2 separate regions of the Homo sapiens genome follow, and region 1 is linked to region 2. Evidence: fine-mapped expression QTL. A gene starts in region 2. The other region holds a variant in brackets. All regions are shown on one strand. Distances are from middle to middle.

Region 1 (16,031 bases), 41 kb before region 2:
TTGCACAGGCTGGTCTTGAACTCTTGAGCTCAAGCGATCCACCCATCTTGGCCTTCCAAAATGCTGGGATTACAAGCATGAGCTACAGTGCAGATTTGGGAATTTAAAATACCAGTAAAAAATACACAAAGTGCTCTAATGGAAAAGGTGGACAACATGCAAGAACTGCTGATAATATAAGCAGAGAGATGGAAACTAAGAGAGAATCAAAAGAAATTGCTAAAAACAGAAATTTCATAAATAGAAAAAACAGAGAAAAAAGAGTGTAAAAAATAGAGCCAAATATCCAAAAACTGTGAGATAACTACAAAAGGTATAGCATAAATGTAATGGTAATACCAGAAAGAAAAGAAAGAAAAAACAGAAGAAATATTTGAAGTAGCAATGGCTGAGAATTTTCCAAAATTAATGACAGACACAAAACCACAGATCCAGGAAGCTCAGAGAGCACCAAGCAGAACAAAAACCAAAAAAACTGTATCCCAGCGTATCATACTCAAATTGCAGAAAATAAAAGACAAAAAGAAAATATTGAAATATTTTTGCAAAAGGGGTCCAAAAAACCTTACTTATAAGAAGAATAAGGATAAGAATTACATTGGATTTCTCTCCAGAAATCATGCAAGCAAGAAGATAGGTGAAATACTGAAAGTCCTAAAAGAAAAAAAAAAAAAACAACACCAACCTAGAAATCTGATCCAGTGAAATTATCCTACCAACATGAAGGAGAAATAACAAAAAACAAAATTTGAGGGAATTTGTTGCCAGAAGATCTGCCTTGCAGGAAATATTTTTAAAAGTTCTTCAGAGAGAAGGTAAGTAATTTGGGTCAGAAACTCAAACAAACAGAAAGAGAAGGACAGTGTTAAAGAAGGAATAAATAAGAGTAAAATAAAATCTTTTATTTTTCTCATTCTTACCTAACAGATAACAGTTTGTTCAAAATAGTAACACCAACAGGATACTGGATGATTATACCATGTGGATAAATGAAATGAATGACAGCAATGTTATAAGGGAAGGGAGGGAAGAATTGGGACTACTCTGTTATAAGATATGTGGCACTAACCATGAAGCGTCAAAGTGTTACTTGAAAGTGGACTCAGATTAACTGTACATGTATACTGCACACTCTAAGGAAAATCACTATTTTTAAAAAATAATTGATATGTTGAAAGGGAAGAAAATAGAATCATATAAAATGCTGCAGAGAAGGGAGAAAAAGAATGGAAGACAAAAGAAGAAACAAAGAACAAGGGCAACAAATAGAAAACAATTATAAATGTGGTAATATTAATATACCATATCAATCACTTTAAATGTGAATGGTCTAAATGCCAATAAAAAGACAGAGATCATCAGAAAGGATTGAAAAAAAAAAAAAGACCCAACTAACTACATGCTGTCTATAAGAAACTCACTTTAAATATAAAAATGCAGATATATTTGGATTAAAAGTAAAGGTTTGGAGAAAGATATACCATACTAAGACTAATTAAAAAAACCTAGAGTAGCTATATTAATTTCAGACAAAGCAGAAGTCAGAGCAAGGAAAATTATCAGGGATAAAGAGGGGCATTACATAATGATAAAGGGGTCAATTCTCCAAGAAGACATAAGAATCTTTAATGTGTATGTACCTAACACAGAAACAAAATATGTGAAGCAAAAACAGAACTGCAAGGAGAAATAGACAAATCCACCATCAATATCCTCTAGCAACAACTGACAGATCCAGCAAGTAGAAAATCAGTATCTAGTTAAATTAAACAACATCATCAATCAACTGGATCTAATTGACATTATTATAGGGTATTGCATCCAACAACACCACAATACACATTCTTCTCAAGGACACACAGAACATTCACCAAGATAGTCACATTTTAGGCCCAAAAGAGCACCCTAACGAGATTAAAAGAACAGAAACCACACAAAATCTGCTCTAAGATCACAATGGAATTAAACCAGAAATCAATAAGAGAAAGACTGCCAGAAAATTCCAAAATATTTGGAGACTAAATAACACACTTCTAAATAACACACAGGTCAATGCAGAAATCTCAAGAGAAATTAAAAACTATTATGAACTAAGCGAAAATGAAAATACAATTATCAACATTTATGGGAAGCAGCAAGTGCAGTGATTAGAGGAAATTTTATAGCACTGAATGCAATATAAAATCAATAATCTGAGCATCTACCTTAGAAAACTAGAGAAAGAAGAACAATATAAACCAAAGGCAAGCAGAAGAAATCATAAAAATTAGAGCAGAAATCAATGAAATTTAAAACAGGAAATGAGTAGAGAAAATTAATGAAACTAATGGCTCATTATTTGAAAAGATCAATAAAATTGATAAGCCTCTAGCCAGGCTAACCAAGACCAAAAAAAAAAAAAAAGAAGAAGAAGAAGAAGAAGAAGAAGACACAAATTACTAACATCAGAAATCGAACGGGGTCATCACTACTGATCTCATGGACATTAAAAGGATGATCAAAGGAATGTTATATACAACTCCTTGCCCACAAATTTGGTAATTTAGATAAAATGGACCAATTCCTTGAAAGACACAGGCTACCAAAACTCAGATAAGGAGAAACATATCATCTAAAAATGCCTGTATCTATTAATATAAAGGAAACTGAATCCATAATTAATAAACTTTCAAAAAAGAAAGCCCTAAGTCCAAGTGGTGAATTGTACCAAACCCTTAAGGACAAAATGATACCAATTCTCTACAATCTCTTCCATGAAGTAGAAGCAGAGAGAAAACTTCCTAACTCATTCTACGACACTAACATTACTCTAATGCAAGTTTAGCATCCCTAATCCAAACATCTTAAATCCAAAGTGCTCCAAAATCTGAAACTTGTTGACTGCCAAGATGATACTCAAAGGAAATGCTCACTGAAGCATTTCAAATTTTGGATTTTTGGATTAAGGGTGCCCAATCAGTAAATATAATGCAAATATTCCAAAATCTGAAAAGAAGTCTGAAATCCAAAATACTTCAGGTCCCAGGCATTTCAGATAAGGGATACTCAATCTGTACCAAAACCAGATAAAGACATTACAAAAAAGGAAAACTACAGACCAATGTCTCTTCTGAACAAAGGTGGATAAATGATCAACAAAATAGTACAAAATTGAACCTAAAAATGTTTTAAAAAGTGTATGCCCTGACCAAATGGGATTTATTCTTAGAGTTCAAGACTGGTTTACCACTTGAAAATCAATAGTGTAACCCATCACATCAACAGGCTAAAAAAGAATAGTCACAGGATCATATCATAGATGTGCATTTAACAAGATTTGACACTCATTCATAATAAAAACTCTTAGCAAGCTAGGAAAAGAGGGTAACTTCCTCAACTTGATCAAGAACATCTACAAAAAACCTACAGCTAACATCATATTTAACGGAGAGAAACTAAATGTCTTCCCCCTAAGATCGGGAACAAGGCAAAGATGTCCTCTCTCATAATTCCTATTCAATGTCATAGTGGAAGTCGTAGCTAATGCAGTAAGACAAGAAAAGGAAATAAAAGGTATACAGATTGTAAAAACAAAACAAAACAAAAAAAATTTCTTTATTCACAGATAATATGATTGTCCATATAGAAAATCCCAAATAATCCATTTTAAAAACTGGAACTAATAAGTGATTATAGGAAGCTTGCAGGATACTAGAGTCAATTGCTTTCACATATCCCAGCAATGAAGAACTGGGATCTGAAATTAAAAACACAATGCCATTTTTATTAGTGCCAAAAAAATAAAAACGTAGGTATAAATACTTAACAAAACATGTACAGGATATCCACGGAAAACTACAAAACTCTGATGAAAAAAATCAAAGAAGATCTAAATAAATAAAGAGATATTCCATGTTCATGGAGGGAAGACTCCGTATTGTTAAGATTTCATTTCTTTCCAACTTTATCTAAAGATTTGATACAATCCCAATCACAAGTCCAGAAGTTGTTCTGTGCATATCAACAAACTGATTCTAAAGTGTATATACTGAAAGGCAAAAGACCCAGAATAGCCAATACAATCCCAAAGAACAACAATAAAGTTGGAGGATTGACACTACCCAGCTTCGAGACTTACTATAAAGGTACAGTAAACAAGACAGTGTAGTGTTGGTGAAAGAATAAACAAGTAGATCACAATAAACAGAACAGACAGAATAAGCAGAATAGAAAGCCCAAAAATATACCCAAACTAATATAGTCAACTGATATTTGACAAAGGCACAAAGGTAATTCAAAGGAGTAAGGATACTCTTTTCAACAAATGTTGCTGGAACTGGGCATCCGCATGCAAAAAAAAAAAAAAAAAAACAAACCAAAACAAAACCCTCTCCGGCCTGCCCCTGTCTGCCAGTGTACATAACTTAGGACACCAACCACAACCACTTTCTTTGGATAGAAGGTATTGGCCCTCTGGGCAGCTGCCAACTTATCTTCCCTCTGCCCCGTCCAGCCCTCCATTTCATACCTAACCACTCCACAGTGAGATCAAAACTCTCAGAGCCCATGACGACTTTCACTATCAGTTTCAGGCCTTTCCTCAGTCCCATTTCTGTTCCAATTTCTTCTCTTCCTTTTATCTGCATAAATTGTCCCCTGGAGAAATTGTGTTTATTTTTTGTTCCCTGGTTTATCCCCAGGATCACACACAGAGTAGGAGTTCAATAAATACTTCTTGAATGAACAAGCTTTTAAGTTATGTACATGTCATATGTGTTTTCAGTACATACATCAAAGTATCGATACATCAAAAATCAACATCCAAAGTGATTATCTCTGCATGGGAAAGTTATGGGTGATTTTGATTTTTTTATTCCTTTTTGCTCATTGGAACTTCCTAACTGTTCAACAGCGAACATGTATTGCTTTGGATAATACAAATAACAGGAAAAAAAAACCCTCCCTACAACATAAGAAAGGCCAGGTTTATACAAAGGAAGCATCCGAAGTGATGATTCACTTTATAGAAGGCATCTTTTGCTTTGTAGAAAGCTTTGTCATAAAAATATTTTATGTAAGGAGTAGTCAAAAAAAGGATTTGATCTGTGGGACACTTCAGAATGATGAAGTTCAGAAAGTCCCATTTCCCCTGAGAAGAACAGAAGCTGTTCCTTCTTCCTTCTTTCCAGATCATGTTCTGTTTCCCCATCTTCTCAAGGAAGACCACAGCACATTCCCAGCTGGTCAGTTCCAAGCTCAGTGACTCCTAACTCTGTTTGCCTCCGGGGTTTCATCTTCAGATGTGGGTGTTTCGAGACTCTGGAAAACCAGACTGGATTCTCTGCTGGGCCATAACCATGAAGAAGCCTTTCAAGGGACTGGCTAAAGAGAGAACACCCTCAGCCTAACATGTGGATGGCTAAATCAACTCTGAATCTCTGACCTCATGAAAACCCTTCCACTCAGTGAAACCAGACATCATACAGGCAGTCCCCAACAAATGCTACCCTGGGACAGGCTTGCCTGTGTGCTTTGCACTCATTCTCTCTGAAGTCCAGAGCAGAATCTAGGTGCATAACACTGGCCTGATTTTACAGATGGGGAAACGGACCAGAAAGGCGAGATAATTTGCCTAGGAACACCCAGGTATTAGGTGGGAGACACAGGACCCAGGATTCCAGCCTTGGTCTAATGGATGCCAAAGCTGCAAGATAAATGAATACATATGCTCAAGTAACTTTTTAAAATAGCAAAGGTATTCAACATCTGATCTGTGTCAGGTTCTAAGAGACACATGCTGAGCTGGAGCCACCAATAGGTCAGCCATTGCCCCTAACCTGATGGAGCGTGCATGCTAGCAAGGGAAACACACCACACAACTGACTTCCACTTGTGAAATGGGCTACCCAGGTAGCACTGTCACCCTCAGCTAGGTGGGACACAAATGTATGGCTTAGCAAAACTACAACTAGCCACATGGCAAACTGCACAAATCTCCAATGCTAAATCCTATTGATACTATCACAAACTGTCATTGATGTGGCTCTTCCCATGTGCTAGGTACTGTGCTTGCCACTTCATATCCATTCTTTCATTTAATCCTTACCACCACCTTATGATGTAAACTCATTAAAAATTGCGACTCTTGGCCTCGCACAGTGGCTCATGCCTGTAATCTCAACACTTTGGGAGGCCAAGGCAGGCAGATCAGCTGAGGTCAGGAGTTTGAGACCAATCTGGCCAACATGGTGAAACCCTGTCTCTACTAAAAATAAAAAAATTAGCCAGGCATGGTGGCGGGCGCCTGTAATCCCAGCTACGTGGGAGGCCGAGGCAGGACAATCGCTTGAACCTAGAAGGTGGAAGTTCCAATGAACCGAGATCACACCACTGAACTCCAGTCTGGGCAACAGAGTGAGACTATCTCAAAAAAAAAAAAAAAATTGTGACTCTGAAAATAAGTAAAAAATCAAGATCTACTTCTGTGTTACAGTACCTTCTCCCAAGCACTACAGCACACTACATGGACTGCACCCCGCAGGCTCCTCCCCACCATAAATCACCATTAAGGGGTCTCCTAGCCCCTAAAGGGCTCCACGCCAATAGCCTCACTTGAAACAAAAGTGTCAGAGATCAAGCAGGTGACTTCTGCATCGCCATGGCAACTGGCTGAATGAGGCCTGTCAGGAACTTGGGAGTACAAAGGCCCAAGGGAGAATGAACTTGGGATACCTGGGATCTCTTCCAACAGTGATTCCCCACTCTGGACCCAGGAGCTATAGAGGCCCTGACATTCAGGCCAGGGCCCTGGTGCTCCCCAGGTTCAAAGGTCCAACCAGGTGTCAGGCCCCTGTGTAGCCCAGGCTGGACCAGACCCTGGCTGCAGCCTTCAGCATCCCCACCCACGAGGATGGCATAAGAAGGTGAGCCTGGGGTGACGCGAAGGCTGTGCATCAGCTCTGCAGTTGACTGTGATACTTTTACAATGTTCATGACTTCCAGACTCATTAGACTACGAAGAGCCAGTCACTTCCCTTTTTTGGACCTCAGTTTCTCCATCTGCAAACTAGAGGCAACCCTCCTTGCCTGGCCCACTTCCCAGGACCACTGTGTAGAATCAGCAAGAACACAGGAGTCTGTCTGCTCTGCAAATCCAAACCGTGGAATCAAGGTGGCATGGGGACAGTTCCACCTCCTCACGGAGAGGGCTGGCCCCGCCGTTGGAGGACACCAGCAGCAG[C/A]CGGCCCAGGGGCCTGCCAGGCCTCTCCTGACTATGAAAAGGCTACCACTCGCCAAGTTCGCTCCTGGCATAACAGCCTGCCAGCACGGATGGCAAGCCCGCCAGCCAGTTTTCCTCCTCAGGGATGCACACACACATACAATTCAACTCATAAATAAAAATCTGATTATCACAGGCTTTCTCAAAGCCAATGTGGCTGAGTTTTAATCTTTTATAAAGAAAAATTCATTAAATATTCAAGCGAGGCCTGTGCATCTCGGGAGACTGCAAGAGGCTCTCAGCAGCCCCCAGCTACAGACACACCAGTGGGGGTCCCAGGACCTCTGCCATCAGCCACCAGAGCATCTCTCCCTGCCGCGGCTGCTGTTCAACCAAGTCATTAGCCACAAGCAGGTCCAGGCTCTGCCAGCCCTGTCTCACTTTCCTGCCAGCCTGCTCCCCTTGGCTGCTCACACTCTTGGCTCTTTCTGCTCTACGAGATGGGGGATGCCCTGGGATCCTTTTCAGACTGGATAAAACTGAAAACAAGCTGAAAGGGACAAAACGTGAGGAGATGAGGGAAAGCCCCTCCCCTCCTAAACTGCTAATTCAGACTAACTAGGGGAGGCTAGTGAGGATATGAATTATGGCCTCTGGAAGGTGGCCACTGAGTCTTCCTTTCCAGTTTTCATTCGTTCATTCACACCAAATTTATTTACTGTGACTCCACAACGTGCCAGACACCATGGGCACTAAGAATACAACAGTGAGTGATACAGACAAAAACCTTTGCTCTGTGCCATGGGGTAAGGGCTGATTCCAGGGCCGGGGTGCAAGATGAGCCTGGTACATCCTGAAGACTCAGAAAGTAAGAAATGCTCAAAGAATGACAGGGACTTGTTCAAAGGACAGAGGAGCTTGCGTGAAGGGGCTGCCACTGGCCAAATCTGGAATGATTTGAGCATCAGAAAAAAAAATAATGATGGTAATTGATTATAACCCATAAAATAGACATCCAGCAGTCTAAATTGATCTAAATAAGCAGGTAAATAAATAAATAAATGGAGGAGAAAGGAGAGATCTTTCTACAGTACAATTCCAATTAATAAATACAGAAGAAATGATGGAAATAGGAAATCACTATTTGGCAAACACCACAGTTATCACTGTTGTAGGCAAGAAGCAACAATAGATGCTAAAATTAGTGGATAGAAAAGCATGATGAAAAATGAGATATTTGCATAGTCTCAAAATATCGCCACACAAAACACTTATTAATGCAAAGAATAAAAGAGTAACTTTACAGAGAAGGAACCTGGCAGACACCACCTTAACTAAGTGTTCAACACTAACATCACCAGTAGTAAGTCATCAATACCCTAGGTCCCCGATGTCATACAGTGAGAAGAAAACAGCATCACTTCTGGGGTATTCTTGCCGGAAATGCATACCCTCCGTCATCCTACAAATGTCTCACAAATCCAGGAGGAGCATTCTATAAAACAACCGGTGGGGACTCTTTAAAGGACTCAAGGGCACAGAATTCAAAGACTGACCAAGGATCTGCCCCTGACTGCTGAAGACTAAAGAGGTAAGACAACTAAGTGCAATGTGGGATCCCGGATCGGCTCCTAGGCCAGAAAAAAGACCATTAATGGGGCCATTGGTGAAATGTGAATAGGTCTACAGGTTAGTTAACAGTATTATATTAATCCAATTTCTTGTGTAAATATTAATTTCATAGTATAATCTGAGCATTATACTATGGGCATAGAAGTTAACATTTGAGGAAGCTAGGTGAAAGTGTATGGAAACTCTTAGTATTTCTAGAGGTTTTTATGAGTCTGAAATCTTTCGAAATCAAAGTTTTTTAAAAAATGTGTTAAGCCCTTCCCTCACAAAACTTACCTTATTGGGAAAGAGAGGTGGGAAGATAGAGAGGAAGTATATACAAATTGTTTTTTAAACAGTAAAATAACCATTAGATGATTACCAGTACTATGAAGAAAAATGAAGCCAAAAAGGAGGATGGAATGGGGAGATGGTATAATTTTAAACAGTACTTAAGAGAAGGCTTGCCAGACACGGTGGCTCACGCCTATAACCCCAGCACTTTAGGAGGCCGGGACAGGTGGATTGCTTGAGCCTAGGAGTTCAAGACCAGCCTGGCCAACATGGCAAAATCCCGCCTCTACAAAAGATTTAAAAAAAAAAAAATAGACGAGTGTGGTGGCACACGCCTGTAGTCCCTCCCTACACGGGAGGCTGAGGTAGGAGGATCAGTTGAGCCCGGGAGGTAGTGAGTACAATGAGTGGAGACTTAGCCACTGCACTGCAGCCTGGGTGACAAAGCCAGACCCCTATCTCACAAAAAAAAAAAAAAAAAAAAAAAAAGGATAGAGAGAAGGCTTGCTAGGCAAAGAAGGATATATCCAGAGGGACGAGCCCAGAAAATAACTAGAAAAGAGCATTCTGGGCAAGGAAACAGCAAGTGCAAAGGCCCTGAGGCTGCAATGTCTGGTGTGACAGAGAAAAAACAAAGTCAGACTGAACTGTGGCAATATCTCAGCTCCATTCCTGCCTTGGTGGGAGCTGGCCACCCCATTCCACCCTCTCCATGCCCCTCTTCCTTCTGAACAAGATGCCAGATTAGCCGCCCAAAGGCTTGGCAGAGTAGCATCTTAGGAAAGATTCAGTCCTCGAGCCAGTAAATAAAGTTTAAATTTCACTTGAACAATCTCTTAAGAAGGTACCATTGCTGGAGACTGTCTTCCCAGTTTTCTAGAAGCCCAATAACCAGTTTGTCCTCCAGAATTGGGACAGAGCAATGTTTTTCTGATTGAGCACCAGACGAAGATGTGTTAAGGGACCATGTTGGGTGAAGGATACACACCTTGCAACACGAGAATCACAGTTAGGTGGGTGACATGTTCTCATTCTGAGAGGGACCAAAAGCTCATCAGTTCTCATCTTCTAGGCACGCTCACACCAGGGTAACTGCCACCTGCATGATTCTTAACTCTCCACGGTTAAGTGCCATGATACTCATTGATCAATCATGTCTCTGCTTCAAAACCTTCAGTGCCCTTCCCTTTCCACGGGACAGCTCCCAACCTAGACTGGTACACTTACCTCTACAACAGAACAACAGTGGGCATTTCCTAACTGCAAGAGAAGCTTATGAGGGGTCAAACTGAAATCAGTTTTAGGCTCTTCTTAAGTTTTTGGCTGAGACCTGTAACCTTATCATCAGGACCACGAAGGCACAAACAGCAAATGAACTCTAGCAGAAAGATGCGGAATCCACCGGTCCAGGCTACATCATCAGCTTGTTTCGTTTTCTGGGCCTGAGCTCATGGCTGTGATTTTTTATTGCAGCCATATAACACGGTCATATTTTCTGCTAGTAAAATTGTCCCTGGGTCATACAATGGAATCAAATTGATCAATATTTCACAGAGCTGTTGCAAAAAAAGCTTTCGGGTGTTCCTGCCCTTCTCTCCAACACTGCAATACACACACACAGTCACACAGACACACACACACACACACACACAGACACACGCGCATGTCTCAGAATGGCCCACCTTTGTCAGCACAAAGAGATAATACTATCTCCTTATATAGCTGCTGCCATAAAGATAAATGTGATAAATACTATAATTATCATTATTCATTCACTCAACGAATATTTAATAAGCATCTACTATGTCTAGCCCTTGCTGGGAACAGAGGACATAGTAATGAATAAAGCAAACACAGGCTGTGCCCTCATGGGGATTATTCATTTCCTTGGTTAGCAAAATTCTCTACCTGGTTTACAGGGTCGTCCACAAGAATAGCTAGTATCTGTCTGTCTGTCTATCTGTCCATCCATCTACCTCTCTCTATCCCTCCCTCCTTTCCTCCTTCCCCCAGAAACCCCACACACACCTTTTATGTCCCACCACTCCCCAAATACTCCCTGCTCAAGTAGACCACCTAATATTTTCAGCTTCCCTCAAAAGGTATTTTTAAGCATCTTGAAATGCCATTTGCATACAAAGCCTTGGCTAATTAGAATCTTTCTACCTTTTCCTTAGAGTCTCGGATGGCTTTATCTTTCCCCTTTACCAATCTCAGCATTAACTACCCACAAGCCTGCACACCTCCTCCAGCTGGTGTCCCTGACCCTCCTCAAGCCACCAGTCTCCCCCCAGTTCCTCCACCCCTTCACCTTGGCATCCACAAAGCTCAAAGGGAACCAACGGCCTGACTTCTCAGGGGCTCATCTAGTCCTTCATCTCATCTTTGACAGTAGCGGATGTCAACAGCAAGAACCACTTCCACTATTTCAGAATCTTCTGCTGAGGTCCACCATACGACAGGCAGGGCAGAAGCTTTGAGTGACACCTGGCTGGTGGCTAGAAAGCAACCTCAGATGCACTCAGTGATGCCGACCATAGCAGGCAGCAAGCTACATGGAGGCCAAACTCCAGCGCCTTGCACAAAGCCTGATGCATAGTAGGTGCTCAATAATGGTCAGTTGCTGCTAAAACTGTTTATCTTTGAAAGTTTTGCTAAGTAAGGTAGAAGATTTTCCCTCTATAGTTAAATGAAGAGAAAATGAGCAATTTTATGCTAACTGTGCCCTTAAAATATTAGAGAAAACTGTTCTTAGACAGGGGTGCAAATTTCAAAGGATCAGGGGCTATGCAGGTAAGTTTCATGAGCCAGTCAGGTTGGAGGCCAGTGCTGGGAAGATGAGGGGGCCAGTCAAGCTCGCTCCTACTGACTGTTACATCCAAGTTGTCAAAACAGGTGGGACATCAGAATTTTTAAAGATGAGCAACTATTGTGGCCAGATGGTGTTTGATCTCTGGTTCAACCTCTGTTTAAACACTCCTCCCTTCCCCTACCCAGCCCTCTCTATCTTGTTACACCCGTTTGGAACAGAAAAGATGTTTTTATAATTAGCATAGTGTTTATATTCCAATGGGAGCATTCAAAAGGCTTAAAAATAGAATGATTCCTTACACACCTTAGAGCTCTTCCCCTGAAGATCTTCTTTACACTAGCATTTTCCCTAGCAAATCTTTTGGAAAGGTCAACTGCAGTTTACAAAATCATAAACCGGCAACTCCGAATGATTGGGATTTTGTTGCATACACTGAGGCAACTTTAAAGTCCCACCCAATGGGTTCTTCTGCTTCAGTGCTTAGTGGCTCTGAGATTAATGGCTCTACAGAGAAGCGCACGTGAGGAGAGCCCCAAGGTGCCTATATCCTGCGTCTTGAAGGCCTGGCTGCCAGAGGGAACCAAAAGAGGCTCTTGGAATTTGGCAGGCCTCTGGGATCCTGGAACAAACATGGACTTTGGTTTAAGGAAACCCGACTTAGAAGACTTAGACACTACCTTGCTAAGGGCCAATTTATCCCATTTACAGAAAGGGTGTTCTCATCACAGAAAGAACCGGGGGAGCAACCGCCTTAAAAAGCAGCTCTCTCCTGGGGTAATAACTCAGTGTTCATGTCTCCTTATATTAGCCAGCAGCATGTTAAATAAAAAGTGTGCTTAGAGGGGGAAAGGGTGGTCCAGGTTGGGGGAGGCTGAATAAACAAAATTCATCTATTTTCTTTGCTGCAGGACTTTTCAGAGCCTTTAAAGACCCAATGGCCACTGTGAATTTCTAAGACACAGTGTGTTCCATTCACAGGTTTATCTAGCCCTCAATTCACCTCCACCTTCCTCTCCCATGTCCCCGTGGAGCATACAGCCTGAGCCACATTTCAGAAGTAAGGGCAACAAGCCTCAACTTCTAAGATTAGGAGAGAAAGGGACTTGCCAAAGATCCACAGCTCATTAAGTCTACCCTCAAACCCAAGACAACAGTCTTTCCACAGCACCCACCCTCCCTCCCTCAAGACCATTGCTGCCTGCCCTACTGGTTTAGCCAAACAAGATCTGACCAAAGATAGACACTGACTGCAGTGTTCAAGAACCAAGGAGTGATATCTGCCAAGTTCCCAAGCCTGGCATAAACTGCTGAAAAGTATGAAGCAACAGCTGGGCCCAGAGCTGCAGGATCTTGGCTCTAAGAGGCCTGCCTTAGTGGTCAGCCAGCAACTGCTTTCATACCTCCAAGGGTAGGGCTGTCGCCCCCTCCTGCAGGTTCCTCACAACTGGATACTGGCTAAAGAACATTGCTAGTGTTTTCTTTCCCGTGACTCCAATGCTGCACATTGCAGGGTTTGTCAGGGGGATGTAGCTTTATGTTAAATCTATCTGCAGAAGAAGGCGGTCAACCGCACAGACTTTGAGGGACAGCAATCCTGAATTCAAATCTCAACTCTACCACTTACCAGTTAACACTGAGATCGCTTCAACCCTGTGAGCCTCAGTATCCTCATCTGTAAAAGGGGGGAATACCACCTCCCTGCGTGTGGGCAGGTGGGCACTGAGTGAGATTCTAGGGGCAGCTTCCCTTCACTCAGCACAGGCGTTAGAGAAAGCAGCTCTTACACGTGGCAGCGGTTCCTGGTGAAATCCACTCTGCTCACTCTCCCGTTTCCAGAGTTTGAACCTCCCTTATAGATCACTTGCCCTGACAGCTGCCCCTGGAAACTGTCCAGATGAACTTGCTGTGAAGGAAGAGCAGAGACCAAGCAGAATGTCTGGAGTAACAGCCGCCTCTGACCTTGGAGGGTTTTCTTGAAGGCCCAAGGTTCCCTGGTACAAAACAGCCCAGGCCAGAAGAGATCAGAAAATCCTCGTAACTGTTGCTAAAGGGATGTTAAAGCGCTGGTCCATCACTTAACTGTACAGATGGGGAAAATGAGGCCAAGGGGGGTGGGATCTGTCTTGGCACCCACAGAGGTCAGTGGCAGCACCAGACAGGGCCTCTGACACCTTCCCATCCCTCCTTTGGTGCATCCCACGACAGGGGAGGAAGACGAGGGGAGGAACTCTAGGAAGGTGATGTGGCATCCCCAACCCTCATCACGTTCCACTGATTTTTTAATAGACTTTAACAATTTACTGACACCAGCAGAGCTTATAAAATAGTTTAATTGAATTAATTAGGCAGTCCCGACTTACTCCTGAGTTCCCCCTTTGGCTCCGGGGAGGCTGTGCCTGCTGCCTGCTTAACCCCTTGCATCCTAGAAAGACTGTCACTCACTCACATTTAAAATGATTCACCATATTCTCTGACAGTTTCTTTCCTAAACTGGCTCTTACCCTGGCCCCACCCATATCCCAGCACTAAGCACACGTCTGCTGCCTGCATCTGCCAGGCCTGAGTTGCTGAAATCCCATCCTAATCCCATCCTAATCAAATTTAAATGGAGGAGATCCCTTTGTGTAGATGAATGCTGCCTTCTCCTGTATGTTCTCAGGGGACAGGGGCAGCAAGAGTGGGATCAGTGCCCCAGCATGGGAGCCACTCACTGGTCTGGCTGGGAAATGGCCACTCCTCACCATTCCTCCAATCTCCTTAGCCTCAACTTCCCTTGAAGCAGAGGCTGGCTCCTGCCACACAAAGTGTGGTCGGTGGCAGTATCAGCACCAGCTGAGAGCTTATTAGAAATGAAGACTCTCAGGCCCCGCCCACACCTGCTGAATCAGAATCTCTGGGGGTGGGGCCCAGCAATCTGTGTTTCAGGCCCTCCTTCGCGTTCTAGGACAAGCTAACACTAAAGAAGTGGTCTGGGTGATCAACAAGACTCCTTCTAGATTGAAAAGTCTGAGAAACAATCTAAAACATGAAAATGAATTCACTTACAAGATATTCTTTTCAGCAATATTTACAATAAGGAAAACCTGTAAATAGCAAAACATCCCCCAAAACAGGCCACTGTTGGGCTGTCGAGGGTACAGCCACCTCATGGAATACCCGCAGTCAAAACCCTCAAGGCTTGCAATAACACTGGGAAACAGGAATCTTATAATGTTGAGCTTTTTTAAAAAAATCAGGAGAGAATTTGTATCCATCCCACCTATTAGTAAAGAAAAAACAATACCGGCCAGGCACGGTGGCTCACGCCTATGATCCCAGCACGTTGGGAGGCCAAGGCGGGCGGATCACCTGAGGTCAGGAGCTCGAGACCATCCTAGATAACACGGTGAAACCCCGTCTCTACTAAAAATACAATAATCAGCTGGGCATCGTGGCAGGTGCCTGTAATCCCAGCTACTCGGGAGGCTAAGACAGGAGAATCGTTTGAACCTGGGAGGCAGAGGTTGCAGTGAGCCGAGATTGCACCATTGTACTCTAGCCTGGGTGACTAGAGTGAAACTCCATCTCAAAAAAACAAAACAAAAACAATACTTGGAAAAAAGCTCAAAATGTCAAAAGTGTCAACATCTGAGTAGGGATCTCTAGGTGATTTTCTTTCTTCCTCATACTTTTCTGTGTTTTCTTTTTCTATAAAGAGCACTTGCTATTTGTTATAACAAAGAAAAACAAACTTGGTTTAATTGTGTTTTAAGACAGTGCTTAGAAAGCAGAAAGTTTCAGGCCGGGCGCGGTGGCTCACTCCTGTGATCCCAGCACTTTGGAAGGCCAAGGCAGGCGGATCACTTGAGGTCAGGAATTCAAGACCAGCCTGGCCAACATGGTGAACCTCCATCTCTACTAAAAATACAAAAAAAATTAGCCAGGCATAGTGGCAGGCACCTGTAATCCCAGCTACTCAGGGGGCTGAGGCAGGAGAATCACTTGGACCTGGGAGGCAGAGGCTGCAATGAGCTGAGATTGTGCCACTGCACTCCAGCCTAGTCGACAGAGCAAGACTCCATCTCAAAAAAAAAAAGAAAAAAAGAAAAAGCAGAAAGTTCCATGCTAACTTGGAAT
Region 2 (16,031 bases):
CCCTGGGGGAGACACCAGGTTTCATTCCTCCCTGGGTCCTCACCCAGGAACAGGGCTGACCCCTGGTAATCAAAGATTCACCCCTGACAAAGGGCTCACTTCACTAGAAAGCAATGTTTTTCCCTGTGTTTTCTATAGCAGACTGGGGGGCCAAGCATCACCTGACTCCATTTATTCGCTTTAGCTTATATAGAAAGCCTCATTCTGCTTTGTCAGCCAAAATATTTATATCACTTTTTTGTCGACTCAATACCATCCTCACCTCAGCCTTCCTCCTTTCCTTTTTAAGAAAGGAGTTGTCGCCAACATGTTTCTCCAGTTCTTTGCTGTTCATGAAGCACTTTCTAGTCCATTAACTCATACGATGCTTTCAAAAAGCCTGGAAGGGTTTAAGGATGGCCTGTCCTCCCACTAAACAGATGAACAAGTAGAGGCTGTGTCGGGGTCCCAGACCCCAAGGCCTTCCAGGGCTAGGCAGGCCACATACATGATTGAAACAGGATGAGGCTGGGGACAGATGCAAACAGGAAAGAATCTGTGAAAGACTCACAAACTCCAAACTTTCTGAACCCTGGGCTGGCAAAAAGATAAAATAACATACAAGAGAAGGGACCCACTCATCTTGTGGCCCTTAGTCTGTGACTCAGTTTACACAACTTACCCAGCATAGCACTAATAATTCGTACTAGTTATAAAAAGTAACGTGTATTTAAAAAGTAACATGTATGTCAAGAGTTTACAAAGCATTTTCAAACTTGTTATCTTATGTCATTCCTGTGAAGAATCATTACCAGCCCATTTCTCAGATGCAGAAATTAAGATACGGAAGGACTAAAGAACTTGTCTGTGGACTTGAAAGTGTGTAAGCAGCAAACCTGTCCCAAACCCAGGTCATCATCCAGGAACCCCAGGGCCTGCCTTGCCCCACTGCCACGTCACTTACACTGCTGAGAGACACCATCCAATCCAGCTGCCTAGCCACAGGCGTCTCCCCTTTGAAACCTGATCACTCCAGGATCAGGCAGAGAAGCAGGTCATCCAGCCCTGCTTTGATGACAACCCCAAGGGTATCTAATTATAACAGGGAAGGGAGGAGTCAGGATTCTCTCGCTATTTCTCAAGACCAAATTAATTTTAATTCCTTTTGATACAGTGTATACACACAGGGCAGGAAAAGCACTGGTTGAGGAGTGAAGAAATCTGAGGCTTTTAGTCCCACTTCCGCTTGTTCACTGAGGTCTTGGGTAAGTCACTCCACCTTCTTCCCAAGGCCTCAGTTTCTCTGTCTCTCTCTCTCTCTCTCTCTCTCTCTCTCTCTCTCTCTGTGTGTTTGTGTCTCGATAAGGAAGGAAAAACTGGCTTCATGTCCCATGGGGTGCGTGTGTGTGTGTGTCGATAAGGAAGGACAAACTGGCTTCATGTCCCATCTAAGCCCAACTGATGGGTAGCATTATATAATACTAAGGACTCTGAGGCCGCTGGCCATACTCAATGGAAAGGACTACCATGGTCAATTAGTGATGTCTGCCACAGGCTAGAGGATGGGGAATGGCAGCATGTATGCTACTTATTTACCATCCTTGGACTAGATGATGCACAAATAACATGCTGCAAGTGAAAAGAACTTTGCCCTTTACAAAACTTTTTTCTTACATCTCTCACAACTTTCACAAGAACCCTATGCATCATCATCTTCAATCATCATCATCAATATATTATCATCTCACCTTTACAGGTAAGGAAAATACGGTGCAAGGAAATGAAGTACTTTGGCAAACACCACAAAATGATTAACTGGTGGAGCAGAGAGGGGAGCCGTGCCTTGGCTCTCCGACTATGCTCTGCTCATTCTACCCTTGGAAATGTCAAACTGGTGCTCCGCTGTTGTCGGGCCAGCTCATGCATGTGGCTGTACTGAAGAGACCCCCCTCCCCCATTTACAGGACTTCACCTCCCTCCCACGGGCTACTTGCCCCTTTTAGAGAGGCCACAGCAAAATTACAAAACCTACACACAGACATGGCAGGAAAGTAGGACTAAGTCAGAGTTCCAGATGTTTCTTCCCAAGGTGAAGTCCTGCCTTCACTGTACAGGGCGGGGGGGGGGGGGGGGGGGGCCAAGCCCAGAGAAAAGTGAGGTAAACAGAGCATGGAGCCCCCACAGGTCATAGTCCTCCCCACCAGGAGGACAACAACACTCAATCCCAAGATGCTTTCAACTGATAGATGCACCATCGATTTTATAACAGCTTTTGGAGAAGAAATAAGAGGGAGAAAAAGTTCACTAGAAGAACAAATCTACTGTAAGGGGCATCCTGATTTCAGAAATATGGAAACGTGGGAATATGAACACTGAGGATCGATGTCTACCTTAACTTAGGATTCTATGCTTGCTTGCTGAAATTGGCCACAAAGTGTTAAAAATGACAGCATTTTATAAAACGTGCTGAAAAAAACTAAGCCAAGAAACAGAAGGTTCTGTTTTCTCCCATAAATTTTCCTTGAATCTTTGACATCTGCAAACCAAAATTCAACCAAAAATGGGGTCACATCACACATTTAGGTGCTTCAAGTTGAAGGAGCCCGTGTGCCTGGATATTCTGCAAACAGGCCCCTGGTGTTCAGTTCCAGGACACCTGGCTAAGAAGACCAGGCATAAATACAGGGCACTGCTATGCCCCATTCACCATACCTGCAAATCAGGCATCTGGGGGTCCCCCATCCACTTTAAAGAAATACTTTATACAAAAGGAGTGAGGAGGGCAGGGGTGAAAGTCATCAGACGAACATTTTAAAAATCCCCCAAGACATGTAAAGGAGCATTTCCCCAACTAAGGATCCCTGTTGGACTTATTATTCCAGGGGAGCCATGGCTTCAGAGCCAGCTGTAAGAAAATGTGCCTCGGGCTCCCTAATAAAACATTGGCTTTGACCAAATGGCCAAGCCCAAATTGGTCATCCACTCTTCACTAGACCCAAAGCCCACTGATCTGAGCTATTTCCAAAAATCAAATGAAGTCATCAAATATTTATGGAGCTGCTGCTCTGCGCCAGACCCTAAAATGAATAACCGGTGATCTCTACCCTCACAGATGTTACAAGTTGGCTGGAGAAGCAGAAATGCAAACAACCAACTCTGACCTGTGGGTCCACATTGTTTGGGAGGTACCATGGGGGCAGAGGGAGAGGAAGCCTACCTGGGGAAATTTGTTGGGGGAGCTCTACAGAAGAAGAAGTGCAGCTGATCTCGAGGAGGGTCTGGTTTCTCACGAAGCAGATATGAATGAGGGAAGGGGCACCAGAGGCAAGGGCCCCAGCATGAGCAGAAGCTCAAAGACATACAGGTCCACCCGCGATTGAGATGTATCCCTTTTAAAGCCTTGCCACAGGCTCAGAAACAAATCCAGAAACATTCCAAGGAGCTAGAGCAGCCCCGGAATGAAAGCATCCAGAATGCTTTAACAAGAAAGTCTCATGGATGGCAGGCTGTTTTAAAGCAACAGCCAAGAGTGTACATTCTCACTTGTCGCCTAACTTTGCCTGCTAACGATAAGCCACCAGGTTTCCAGGACTACCCCAAGTGTTGTCAGTGGGACTTAATCTCCCCAAATGGAGAATCCCTGGCCACTGGGTTGAGTCAACTCACATGCGTCGACCACCTACTCAGGCCCTCAGACCGGCTGAGAGTCTCCACATGTGACCCCTTCATTTAATCCTAAAACAACCCTGCAAGGCTGGGATCATTAACCCTCTTTTCCCAGATGTAGAAGCTGTGGTTCCAGAACCAGAGTGACTTTCCCGAAGTCACACAAAGCTAACCACACCATGAGGCTGGATTTCAAACTCTGGTCTGGCAGACCTCAAACCCAGCTTTCCATTTTCCCAATTGGGGTGGATTCGGAAAATCTCTATGCATCTGACCTAAGGCCTGGCCTGGGGGGATTTCCTGCTGATGCCATGTTTTTGGCTCAGAAATAGATTTCATTGCCAGGCCATCTTTTACCTCTGATCTCCTTCCTCTCCTCAGACCCCAGCCCTGGTCCTGGCCACCTGCTGCCTTTTTGCAACTTCATCCTTCTCTCTGGCAACACTTTATTTAAAATGCACTTCAAAAAGCAACAGCCTCCCGGACTCACACTCCTTGACTTCAACAGCTCACAGGCTGCAACACATCATCCCGGAGTTACTAGCCATCATTTGTCATTTTTAACTACAGCACAGTGGCCTAACCCTGGCAGAAGTCTGCGTTGGGACAAATAAAAGGGAAATGTGGGCTACTCTAGCCAGGAGAGCTATATGGATGGAACTCATCATCACTACAGGCTGAAATGCCTCAGAGCATGTGAGATTCTGATAGGAAGTCTCACCAACAAAACCAAGAGGTCTGAAAGGTGTTGCTACCCTTCTGGGGCCAGCCAGTGATGACGACAACTGGTCCAAACCTGAGCTGTCCAATATAGTAGCCACCAGCCACATGTGGCTGCTGAACAGGTGAAATGTGGCTGGTCAGAATTGAGATGTACTGTAGGAGTAAAATACATTAGATTTCAAAGACTCAATAGCACCCCCGCAAAAGACTGTAACTTGTCACATTAATAATTTTCATATGGATGGCTTGATGAAAGGATAGTATTATGGATATACTGAGTTAAATATGTTAAAATCAATGGCACCCGTTTCTTTTACTTTCCTTAATACACTGTGAGAAAATTAAAAATTATATATGTGGCTCGCAACGGGGGCTTGAATTATATTTCTATTAGCGCTGACCTGACACATTTAAAAGATGAGGAGACTAAGACAGAAATTCTGGGATTTTTAAGGAAGTGCACACACACAAAAATACAGACTGTGTTTTTGTCTGATTAAATTAAATATAGCACAAACACAGACTCTCTAACTCCAGAAAAATTTCTCTGGCAATTTAAACTAAAAGTGGGGAACAAAAGACAAGGACTCCACACACTTTAGATCTCCTCTCCAGCAAGAAGACCTTGCAAAGACGCTGCCTTCAAACTTGTATCTGCCTTTCCATATGTCCTTCCAGACTCATCCAAGGCCAACAAGCTGGGGTATGTGCCTGGGCTGCCCATGTGGCTGAGCTTTCTTCATATGTGGCCCTTGAAGTGGGCTCAACCAGGGCTCAAAATATGTGGCACAGGACACCTAACCCACAGGGTTCACCTAAAAGTTAATTGAGATAATAAATGCAAAAATAAAGTATAAGCAATAAAGTGCAGTATACCTGCAGCACATCATGGCGGTTCAGCTAGTCCAGTACCTTTCAAACTCTTTTGGCCGTGACCCACAGGAGGAAATCTATTTCAAATCACACACATACATCCACAAATATAAATACAAGTTTCATGAGAGGATACTCACCTGTACCCTGTGGTATGCCTCTGCTATTTTTTGTTCCCCTATATTCTAGTCTATTCTTGTTTTTAAAAAATTCTGATTGTGATTCACTAAATTGACTTCACAGGCCACTAATGGCCCATGATTCAAGGTCTCGCCTGGGAATGGTAACTAAGAGGTACACTCTCCACTCTGATTTACAATGCTGTTTGGCCACTGCACCCCTCTCTCTAGAATATGGGAGTCGGGATATGGCCTCAGAATCCTTCTCAACACAGTGATCCAGGCAGCCATAACCAATTCCTTGGAGTTACAATCAGAAATGAAACCTATTTATTATTATCCTTGATCTGATCCCAAGTGTTCATTTTATAAATGCAAAAATTGAGGCTCTGAAGGAAAAAGTGATTTGTCCAAGGTCACACAGCAAGACCTTGTGGGGGCTAGGGCTCCTGAAAAGAGCCACTTCATTTTACATCACCAGAAAGAAGGTACAACTGACCCAAAACATCACAAGAACATGGAAAAAATTCAAAATTTCCTCATGACCATGAGAAGTCGGCTTATATACATCAGTCATATATGGCAAGGAAGTTCTTATCACCCACCAAGGAGAAGACGTAAGGATTCTGAGGTCAGAGGAAGCAGCATGCCAAGAGCTGAGTCAAAAGTGAGAAAAATATTGTATCTGACACTGGAGGAGTTTTAAAACCCAGTTTCTCAAGTGAAACAAGCCATTGGCTGTTTATTTTCTAGGACGAGGGAGAGGTCAGCCTTATACTGACCAGCCATCTTTGTTGCTTTCGTTCTGCAAAAGCAAGAACCCTTGTTCAAGTTCACCTCTGTGCAGAGCTGGAAGTATAAGCAAACCTCTTTTCCTAGCTTGCTCCAAAGTCAAACTATAAAGCAGGCCCTTGAAATTTCAAACCTTGTTAGAAAAAATTAAAAAAAAAAAAAAACCTCCTTAGGCAGAAAAGCAAAACATTAAGTAATAAGAGTCTCCACTGTGAAACTGAATATAAACGATCTTTCGCCAAAATAATTCAGCCCATCATCAAATTACCACCCCCAAGTCCAATTTGCCAGATATTTTGCCCAATAATCTACGAGAATGTGGTGAACAGACAGGAGCTAATAAAAATTAGCTCACATGTCCATTTCTGGTCACACGTCCACCTAAAATAGGAGGTGAGAGAGCCAAGGCCAAGGTCAGATCTCAATCCAGAGAGAGACACCAATAGAAACAAAAGAAAACTGGCCCCGCCCCCAATAGAACCATCATGCACCTCTACTTCCTTTACAACAAACATGATCAGAATAACCAATTTAAAAAAAAAAAAAAAACAGAAAAAAAAAAAAAACAGTTCTACAAAACCAGAAATGATTTTCAACTTCTAGCCATAGACAACAGAACAAAATTTCAGCAGAATGGAATGAAGGAAGCTGAATTGTGTGTCAGGAGATCCAGGCCACACAAAGGGACGTGCTGCAATATTTTTATTCCTTGCACCAGAAATAACCTGTTATCTACAACCCTGACTTTTTCTCAGATGCCCCTACCCCCCTCCACCCCTCCCCAGCCCATCTCTCCTTCATCACTGCTAAACTCAGGCCTTCTGCCTCATGAGGCCTCCAAAGCCCCTTGGAAATTATAAATTCCTTGACCGTCCTACTCATCGGCCTAAATAATTCAACAGAAAAAAATTTTTTTAATTATGCTACTTAAAAAAAAAAAAGCTCATTCCAAATATGTCAGAATGTGACCAGTCAGCCCTGAAGGATTTCGTTACTAAAAAAATAAAATCTCCCAAATGCAATGGCGATGATGGGAAATGTCAAACCTCTGCCATTGTCAAATATATTTCACAGAGATAATATATTTGACTTATTCCACTTAAACATCCAAATTTCCACAAAACAGGGTTGGGAATCTATGGACTGGGGCCACCAGTTTTCCCAAGACCAGCTAGTGGCTGGCAAAAGGAGCAAAGGGTTTCCTTTCTTGCCCCAGGTGACCCACCATCAATTTCCAATCCAAGGTCCCTCCAAGATCCCGCCCTGCAAGTCCTAACAATATGCTGTTTTTGGACAGAAAAATTGTAACTTTTGGGGGATAGGCTCAAAATCCCCAGCAAGTTCAATTAGATACTAATTTATCACAAAACGCTTCATCTTTGGGTGGGTACTTTATTCTCATCTGTCAAATTTCAATTCGGTCAATATTTATTTGCCTTCTTAAATTTTTTTTTCTTTTTTGTTTCACCTTCATGTGATTCATTTTAAGGCCAAAACCTCCACATGAAATATTGTTTGCATATATGCTTTCATATTCCAAAGGCAAACCTTGGGTTTGGCTTTTGTTTGTATTTTGATTATTTTTCCTTTATTTTGTTGCTGCTAAAACCAGCTGAGTTGGTGTTATATCACATTTCTTCAGCAAAGTAAGTGTTCTACCAAGGAAGATGGATAAGAATCAGAATTTTCATCTCCTTTTTGCCCATCCCTCTTTTATCTTTTTCTTGTTAAGTCAGTAAAATTTGTGCATTTTTTTTTTTTGGTCACAAACCCCCCAAAATGATCAAGGCTAATGGATTTTTCCCCCTTTGAAAGTAATCAGGTTTTTGAAAAATAACAAATATTGATAAACTACCAACCCCACATCACAATCAAAGAGGCCTGAAACCAATCTAAATTTTTTTTAAGTAATAAATTTTTCAAATTGGAAGGGTGAACAAGACAGAAAAGGGAAAATTTTCTTCCTTACCAAGGATTCCTCAATCCTTGTCTTCATCAATTGATTCAGTTGCATGTCATAAAAAATGAGCTTCTGTGAATCCACTGTTAGTTTTTTCATAATAATGTTAATTATGCATATCTTATTTTAATGGCGGTCTCTCCTACAAATCTGTGGGCTACTCAATTTGTATAATGTATGAATTTACATTTTTTCCACTTAATATTGCTCAAAAAAGGTTCCTGACATTTTCTGGATAAAACAACAACAAAAAAGAAATGCCTAGACCTTTCAGGAAACAAAATCAGAAAACAGTCTTAATTATTCCATCAAAACAAAAAAAACACACACACACACAAAACCCAACAAATACAGAAAAAAAGAAAGAAAGGATTTCACTGTAACTTTTCTAGTTTCTGTTTTCTTTAGAATCTTAGGATTTAAATGCAGTAAAATGTAAATGCAAAATTAAAAAAAAAAAACTACAATTTTTGGGTGTGTCCAAAGCCAACATTTTAGGTTCTATTTTCTCTTTTAAATCCTTCGTTCGTGGAAATAGAAAAACTTTAAATATTGCCATATAGAGAAATTAGTCTTTTTTTGCCCGCTGAGCTAAACAAGTTCCAAATTACAATGAAGTACAATTTCTAATTGCTTCATAAAGCCAATTCTCTCAGTTTTCCCTAAACTCAACAATTTCCCTCCTTTCTTTATTCCAATTAGTTTTTTTCTCAAACTAAAATGAGTTGGGTACCCAAACTGACTTTGCTTTTAGGAGGTTTTTTGCTTTCTCCCCTCCAAGAACTAAATTCATTCAAATTCCAGCTTAATTTTCATTTACATATTATCTGGATTTGGCTTCAGAAATAAAAATTGTCTCCATGCTTCTGGAAAGATCAAAGTGAAAATTTTCACCCGAAAAAAGAAAAAAAAAGAATCTCTTACCCCTCCACTGCCTGGTAGTGCAAACTTTTGAAAAAATAAGAAATAAAAAATATTTCTTTTCAATTTTAATTTCTTTTTTATTTACAAAATAGTATCCTCTAGGTGGCGTCGTTTTAATGGGAAAAAACTACCGTTTGAAGAAAAATTAGAAAAAAAAAATTGAGAAAGGAAAATATGGCCTAAAAAAAAAGATTGTTGCAAAAATGGGGGACCTGGGGGGAAAGACCTCCCGGGGGGTCATCGGGGACCCCGAGCGCAGAGAGGGTCAGGGGAAAATTGCAAATTTGGGGGGGAGGGGGCAGAGCTGGAAGGGGTTGCATTTTTGCAAAATGTGAATTGTCCAAACTGAAATGGCTGCTCTGTTCTCTCGCCGCTTTGTTTTCTGGGCTCCGGTCCGAGCCCGGGGCCGGAGGGGGCGCTGGGTGGGGGCCCCAAAAGACCCCCTCGTCACCCCCACCCTCCTCGCACCCCGCAGCGCCCGGGGGGGTGCTCTCCGGACCCCGACCCTCCCGATTGCGCCCACAAAAAGCCCGCAAACGTGCCCAGGCACTTTGCATTTTGCAAATCTTGCAATGAAGTGGCGCAGCGCCCCGGGCCCCGGCCCCCCGGGGTCCCCCGCGCGGTGCATGCCCCCGGCCCCCCGTCGTACCTGCGGAGCCGCCGCGCCGCCCGGCTGGTTCATGGGTCCGTGCGGGAGGAGGCGGCCCCGGCGCGTCCTGCTCCTCCCGGGCCGGGCTGCTGGTGCGCGCACAATGCCGCCGCCGCCGCCGCCGCCGCCGCCGCCGCTCCCTCCTCCGCCCGCCCCGCTCAGGCCGGGGGGGCGGGGGCGCTGGGGGCGCGCGGGGGGGGCGCCGGCCCTCGCCCCCACCCCCGGCCCGCACCGGCCGCGCCGCGGCAGCCGCTGCCGCCGAGCCGCCCCTCGCGGGGCCGCCGCCGCCCCCCGCCGCCCTGCCCGCCCCCGGGCCGGCCTCGCCGTGCGGCCCGCGAGCTCGGGGCCTCGGCCTCGGCCTCCGCGCTGCCGGCCTCCGCGTGGCACACAAAGCCGGCCGGTCCAGGGGCGCGCCCGCCCTCCCGTCCGCCAGCCCCAGTGCCGCGGCACACCCGCCCCCCCAAACTTTCCCGCGCCGCGCCCTGCCCTCCCCGCGCCCCCCGCGCCCGCTCCCCGGCTCCCTTCTGCCCTCCCCCAGTCCCCCAGCCCCTCGGAAATGTCATTTTCACGCTGGAAAAAAAGTTCAGGGAGCCGGCTCTCGGCGGAACGCAAGAGGTTAATGGGAACTCTGTACCCCGCTGTACCCCCCCGCCAAAAAAAAACCAGATTGATTTTTGAAATAAAAGTTTTCAAGAGCTGGCTTGCTGGAAGACTGGAAGGCTTATTGGGAATATTCTATTGCCCTGCCACTCCTCCCAAAAAAACTAATGTAATAAAATAAAAGTTTGAAGGACTGGCCCCATGTCCGACAAGAGTGGTTAAGGGGACTCTAGCCCCCCAGCCAGACTGATTTTTAAAATAAATACTTGAGGAGCCGCTTTTATGTGAAATGCCAGTGAAGCGGCTGTTTCTGCCTATCCTTGCCAAATTAAAATATATATATGTATTTCTAAATAAAAGTTTGAAAAACTGGTCCTACAGTAAGACAAGAGGGGTTAAAGGTTAAGGGATATTAGCGCCCCCCACCCCCATATCCCCCAGTTAGGTTGATTTAGAGAAGGAAAATTTGAGAAACTTGCATGTGAAATAAAACGTGAACCAGGATATTTCTTTCCAACACCCCAAAATAGCCAGTTTTTTTGTTGTTGTTATTGTTGTTTTTTTTTTTTTAACTTGAGCAACTGCCTCCTTGTGACTTGGGAAAGTTTAAAAGGGATTTTTTTTTCTATTCTCTTCCCTATTCTCCTAAAAAATCCGATTTTTTAAAAATTGAAAGTATGAAGGACCTGCCCTATTATAGAGACAAGGAGGGATTACTGGATCCATCCTACATCTCCCACAACTGGTTGATTTTTGGAATAAAAATGTTAAGAATTGCTCTTCTATGAGATGCAAGGTGAACAGAAATCCTTCTTTGCCCCTCCCCAAAAGAAAACTGCAAGGGTACTTTTCAAAAATAAAAGCATTGGAAATTAAGAGTAACCAGGTATCTTCTCTCTGCCCCCACCTTCAAAAATCAAATGTTCTTTTTTGTAATGTTTAAAGAACTGGAGCAATATGAGACAGGAAAGGTTACAGAAATGTTTTCCCTACAATCCTCAAAAAAGTTATTTTTAAAATTTTAGGAAACGGAGGCACTGTGTAGAAGACACCTCCTTTCCCTAATAAGTTAAATTGGGAGTTTAGCCCTATATGGGAGACATGAAATTAAGAAACACAACTCTTGCCCCCCTTAACAAACACTCATAACACAAGACGTTAAAAGGAGTCTTCTGGCCGGGAGTGGTGGCTCACGCAAATAATCCTTTTGGGAGGCCAAGGCGGGTAGATCACGAGGTCAGGAATTGGAGACCAGCCTGGCCAACATAGTGAACCCCTTCTCCACTAAATATACAAAAATTAGCCAGGTGTGGTGGCACACACCAGCCAGTAGTCCCAGGTACTCAGGAGGCTGAGGCAGGAGAATTGCTTGAACCCGGGAGGCGGAGGTTGCAGTGAGCCGAGACCACGCCATTGCACTCCAGCCTGGGTGACAGAGTGGGACTCCGTCTCAAAAAAAAAAAAAAAAGAGGAGTCTTCTAACCACTTCCTCCCAGACCCCTAAAAGTTGGAGATTCCTTAAAAATTGAAATTGAAAGTGGCCATTTTTCTCCCCACCAACCTGGTAAGTATGTCCCTGCCAGAGGTTTGGCAGCCTCTGCCCAGGCTGGTGTGCAGCAGGCACCAAGGTGAGTAGGGGCAGCTTGCAGAGCATGGCAGAGTTGGGTCCTGTGAGCCCTGAGCATATGTGCTGGGCAGGCAGCCCCTAGTCCACCTGCCCCTCATCCACCAGGTGGTTGGGGCCTTGTTACCTGGAAAGATGCTCCCAGATTTGATGTCTGTCTGGCTCGATCCTTGTGTGAAGGTTTCTGGGCACCTGCCTCAAGGCCGGGTCCCCGCCTCTGCCTAGTAGAGCCAAGCCTGATCTTAGGCCTTAGAGTAGAAACTAGATCCAAAATGACATGGGGTCTCAGTCACCACAGCTGAAAGCTGTATGGTACCAAGGAAAAACTCCTGCCCTGGGAGTCGGGAAAACTTGATACGATAATTATTCATTTGAGCACTTACTATGTGCCAGGTGCCTTGTATCTAGTAGGACAGACACACACCATGAAGAGGAGAACTATTTGCAGCAGCTCTTCTCAAATGCAAGTGATCCTTGGAATCAGCAGGAGAGCCTATTCAGATTGCTGAGCCCACCCCAGAGTTTTGAATTCATTTGGTCTAGGTTAGGCACCAAGAGTTTGCATTTCTAATGCGTTTCCAGGTGATGCTGATGTTGCTGGTTTAAGGGCCACCTTCTTCAAACCTTTGCAGTACAGTGCCAACAGTGAGGTGCTCAGTGCAGCTCAAGGAAGGGTCCTACCCAGCCCGGGCGTGGGTCAGCGAAGATTCCAGGAGGGTCTTAATTAGATGGAAGTTTCTCTCTAGAGCAGGGATTCTTAAATGGGGACTTTGCATTGGTTTGGGGAACCAAGAACTACTCCTTAACCAAATGTATGTCTGTATGTGCATTTTGGGGGAGAAAATCTGTGGCTTTCACTCAAGAGCATCAGTGACCACCAACCTGAAATAATCCACAGCCTGTCTTCAGGCACCTCTGGCCTATAAAAGCTCATGGTCCTTCTCAGCCTTCTTTTTCTAGAATCACTGCAAGCCCTTTCCGTTTCTTCGCCACCCATGGGTCCCAGGAGCTGGGCCTTCTATCAGCACATCTCGACCATAGAGGCATCTCCTCCCCAGGGGTCTCGGCCTTGAAGAGTGCTTCCTTTCTTCATTCTGTATCAGATGGGCCATGAAGGGTATCCTCAGGGGACAATGGCTGAGCTTGAAGTCTTCCTGACAAAATCCAGCTTATAAATGAACCCACATATTTCCCAAACCACAGCAGAAACTATGCAATCACTCAGAGCTGTGGTTTGTCTCCATTCAGGAATTAACTGAGGGCATACTCACCTTGTGGAACTTTTGGAGTGTCCTGAGGACCTGCCCAAGAAAGTGGCTAGGTACTGTATGAGGTGGCTATGGTCCCATCAGGTGCACTGTGGTCATATCTTAGCCCCCTCACTTTCGAGAGCAATGACACTGTGACCAGTGTGGGGAAGCCAAGAGAAGGGGAGGACCCCTACAAACACCAGGCGAGCTCTGGGCAGAGCTTCAAGGGGGAGGGTGTGTGGGTGGAGGAGCCAACATATTTTGTGATCGCCCAGGGGACAAGACCAGACCTGCTCTATGATGGAGCAGGCTCTGTGATACAGCGTTGGAAAAATGACTGTTGGTCAGGGGTGTGGAAGAACAGATGCTCACATCGGTGGAAGCGTGGTCCGGGAGGGACACCCACAGGCTCTCCCATCTTCTGAGGGTCTGTGGTTCAACTCGGCGTGCCTGAGTTTATCAAATTCTGGAAACTTTTTACTCCTTCCATGCCTAGCCCACTGCCTCCAGGACTAGCATTACTACATCATTTTATGAGCCCAGCCTCTGGCGTCAGTTCCCAGGTTCACTGGCTCTGGTCCTCTTCCCCTGCGGTGTGGTCTCCAGCAGATGGCTCAACTTCTTGCCCCCACTTCTTCATCTTTAAAATGATAGGCCAGGCTCGGTGGCTCACGCCTGTAACCCCAGCACTTTGGGAGGCCAGGGCGGGTGGATCACAAGGTCCGGAGATTGATACCATCCTGGCTAACACGGTGAAACCCCATTTCTACTAAAAATACAAAAATTAGCCAGGTGTGGTGGCACACGCCTGTAGTCCCAGCTACTCAGGAGGCTGAGGCAAGAGAATCGCTTGAACCCGGGAGGCGGAGGTTGCAGTGAGCCAAGATCAAGCCACTGTGCTCCAGCCTGGGCGACAGAGCGAGACTCCATCTCAAAAAATAAAATAAAATAAAATAAAATAAAATAAAATAAAAAGAAATAAAATAAAGTAAAATAAATAAAATGATGCTAACAGTTTTATCTACCTCATGGGGTGCCCTGAGGATTAAATGATGTAATGTGTGAAGTCCTTAGAAAGTGTATTGTGTAGCGAGGTCAGGAGATCAAGACCATCCTGGCTAACACGGTGAAACCCCGTCTCTACTAAAAATATAAAAAAATTAGCCGGGTGCCTGTAGTCCCAGCTACTTGGGAGGATGAGGCAGGAGAATGGCGTGAACCCGGGAGGCGGAGCTTGCAGTGAGCCGAGATCGCGCCACTACACTCCAGCCTGGGCGACAGAGCGAGACTCTGTCTCAAAAAAAAAAAAGAAAGTGTCTCGTGTAGAGAAAGCGCACACGTCGGCAGGTGGAATTTCCGGTGCCCTCACTACCCGGGTGATCCTGGCCTCAGGGCTTCATCTCTGAGCTTTAGTGTCTGTCTTTGAAAAATGGGGATTCTAAAACCTACCAGTCTTATCAATACGCTTTCAGTTGTAACCAATAGAAAAGAAATCACGCTAAACAGACAAAAAATGGAAAATTAGAAGGTGGATCATGGTATCCAAGGGCAGGAAATGAAACAAAGCCTCAAGGGGATTCAGAGCCAGGAACTAGAAAAGTTTCAGGACCTGGGCTTTCTCTCTCCATCACTCTGGGCCACAGATCTCTTGACATCTCAGTCCTAACTTCTCCCTCCTTCCCACTCTCTCTCCGGGTTAGGGGTCGTCTCTGCTTCCCTGGACACGAAGTCAAAATGGTCAGCATACCATCCTCTCAGTGCAGCAAGTACTGACTGGAGTCTCTGCGCTCAATCCAAACTCAGAATAGAGAATGGAGTGAGTCAAGCTTGGCTTAGGTGCCACCAGGAGCTGATCCTCTATGGCCAAAGATGGCAGGGTCACAAAACACATAGAGCCTCTTGAGACCCAGCCTTGAGAGAAGGGACGTGGGGGGCTGAGCAGAACCTTCCAATGTTCCTCTTGGAGGACTGGTGAGGGTTCGCTGAGACTGAGGACGTGATGTGGAGATACACCAAAGTTGCATTTCTTTGTGCTAGAGTCTGGCAACATTTGGAAAACCCAGGAAGTTAAGATGCTGAGGCTTTTTCTAGTAGGTGATGGGCAGATGTCAAACTTGCGTCACAAGCAGGTGGTGGGAGTTGCCTCAGCAGAAGCCTTTGGGTCCCAGACAGAACCTGGGGGCTTGGCTAAGATCTGCTGGGTAGGTCTTGGTGGAGAAGTTGCCTTTATAGAGAAACAGTCGGCTCAAAAGGGCATGGAAAAGAATGAAGGCTAAGACTTCATGAAATGGTGTTTTCTTCCTCAAGCTGAGTTACTTTTCCTTAAGCCTAAAAAACAAGGGAAATGCTCTCTTGTAACAGCCCAGCCAGGGTGACTTGGGCTTTCAAGTCTCTACACAAAGGGGGGGGAAGAAATCACACGATCTGGTCTTAGAAAATTCCTTAGCAATTTATCAAACAAGTTGGCAGCATTTTCTCGTTTGATTGACTATTTCTCCAAAGTGGGCAGAGAAGGGACAGTCACCCCCATTTTAAGGCTCAAGTGTCTTGATCCGGTACAAAATTCCAACTTTTGCTCTGGAATTTTCTTCTTTTCTTCCATTCCTCTACCTCCCCATCCCCGCACAGGGAGAAGTTGGGAAGGAGTTGGGATCAACCAGCAGCAACGTACTTCCTCAAGGAGGGACCTTGCAGGTCATGGTGAAGTCTCCAGAGAAGCAGGTACCTTAGGCCTTGGCAGTCCCCCAGGGAGGTGAGTCCAGGAGCGAAAACGGAGAGAAAGAAGATCCAGGACAAGATACTGGCAAATAGAAAGAAAGAGATCAGGCTGGATGCGGTGGCTCAAGCCTGTAATCCTAGCACTTTGGGAGGC

Evidence for each region. PIP is the estimated chance that this variant, and not a neighbour inherited with it, causes the effect.
Region 1: its variant is fine-mapped to the expression of ZNF618 in cerebellum (GTEx, PIP 0.96). The same link has a PIP of 0.9 or more in cerebellar hemisphere.

What each region holds. Positions count from the first base shown.
Region 1 is chr9:113,910,797-113,926,827 of GRCh38, reverse strand. The region is part of intron 1 of ZNF618 (zinc finger protein 618); the gene reads right to left. Among named protein-coding and RNA genes, the nearest start is that of ZNF618, 43 kb to the right of the region's middle. The variant C/A (reference allele first, on the strand shown) is at 7,220.
Region 2 is chr9:113,870,068-113,886,098 of GRCh38, reverse strand. It overlaps ZNF618 (zinc finger protein 618), which reads right to left and starts at 9,790. Exons shown (of 15, transcript NM_001318042.2): 1 at 9,686-9,790. The coding sequence starts at 9,718. RefSeq lists enhancers at 11,366-11,866, 11,867-12,367.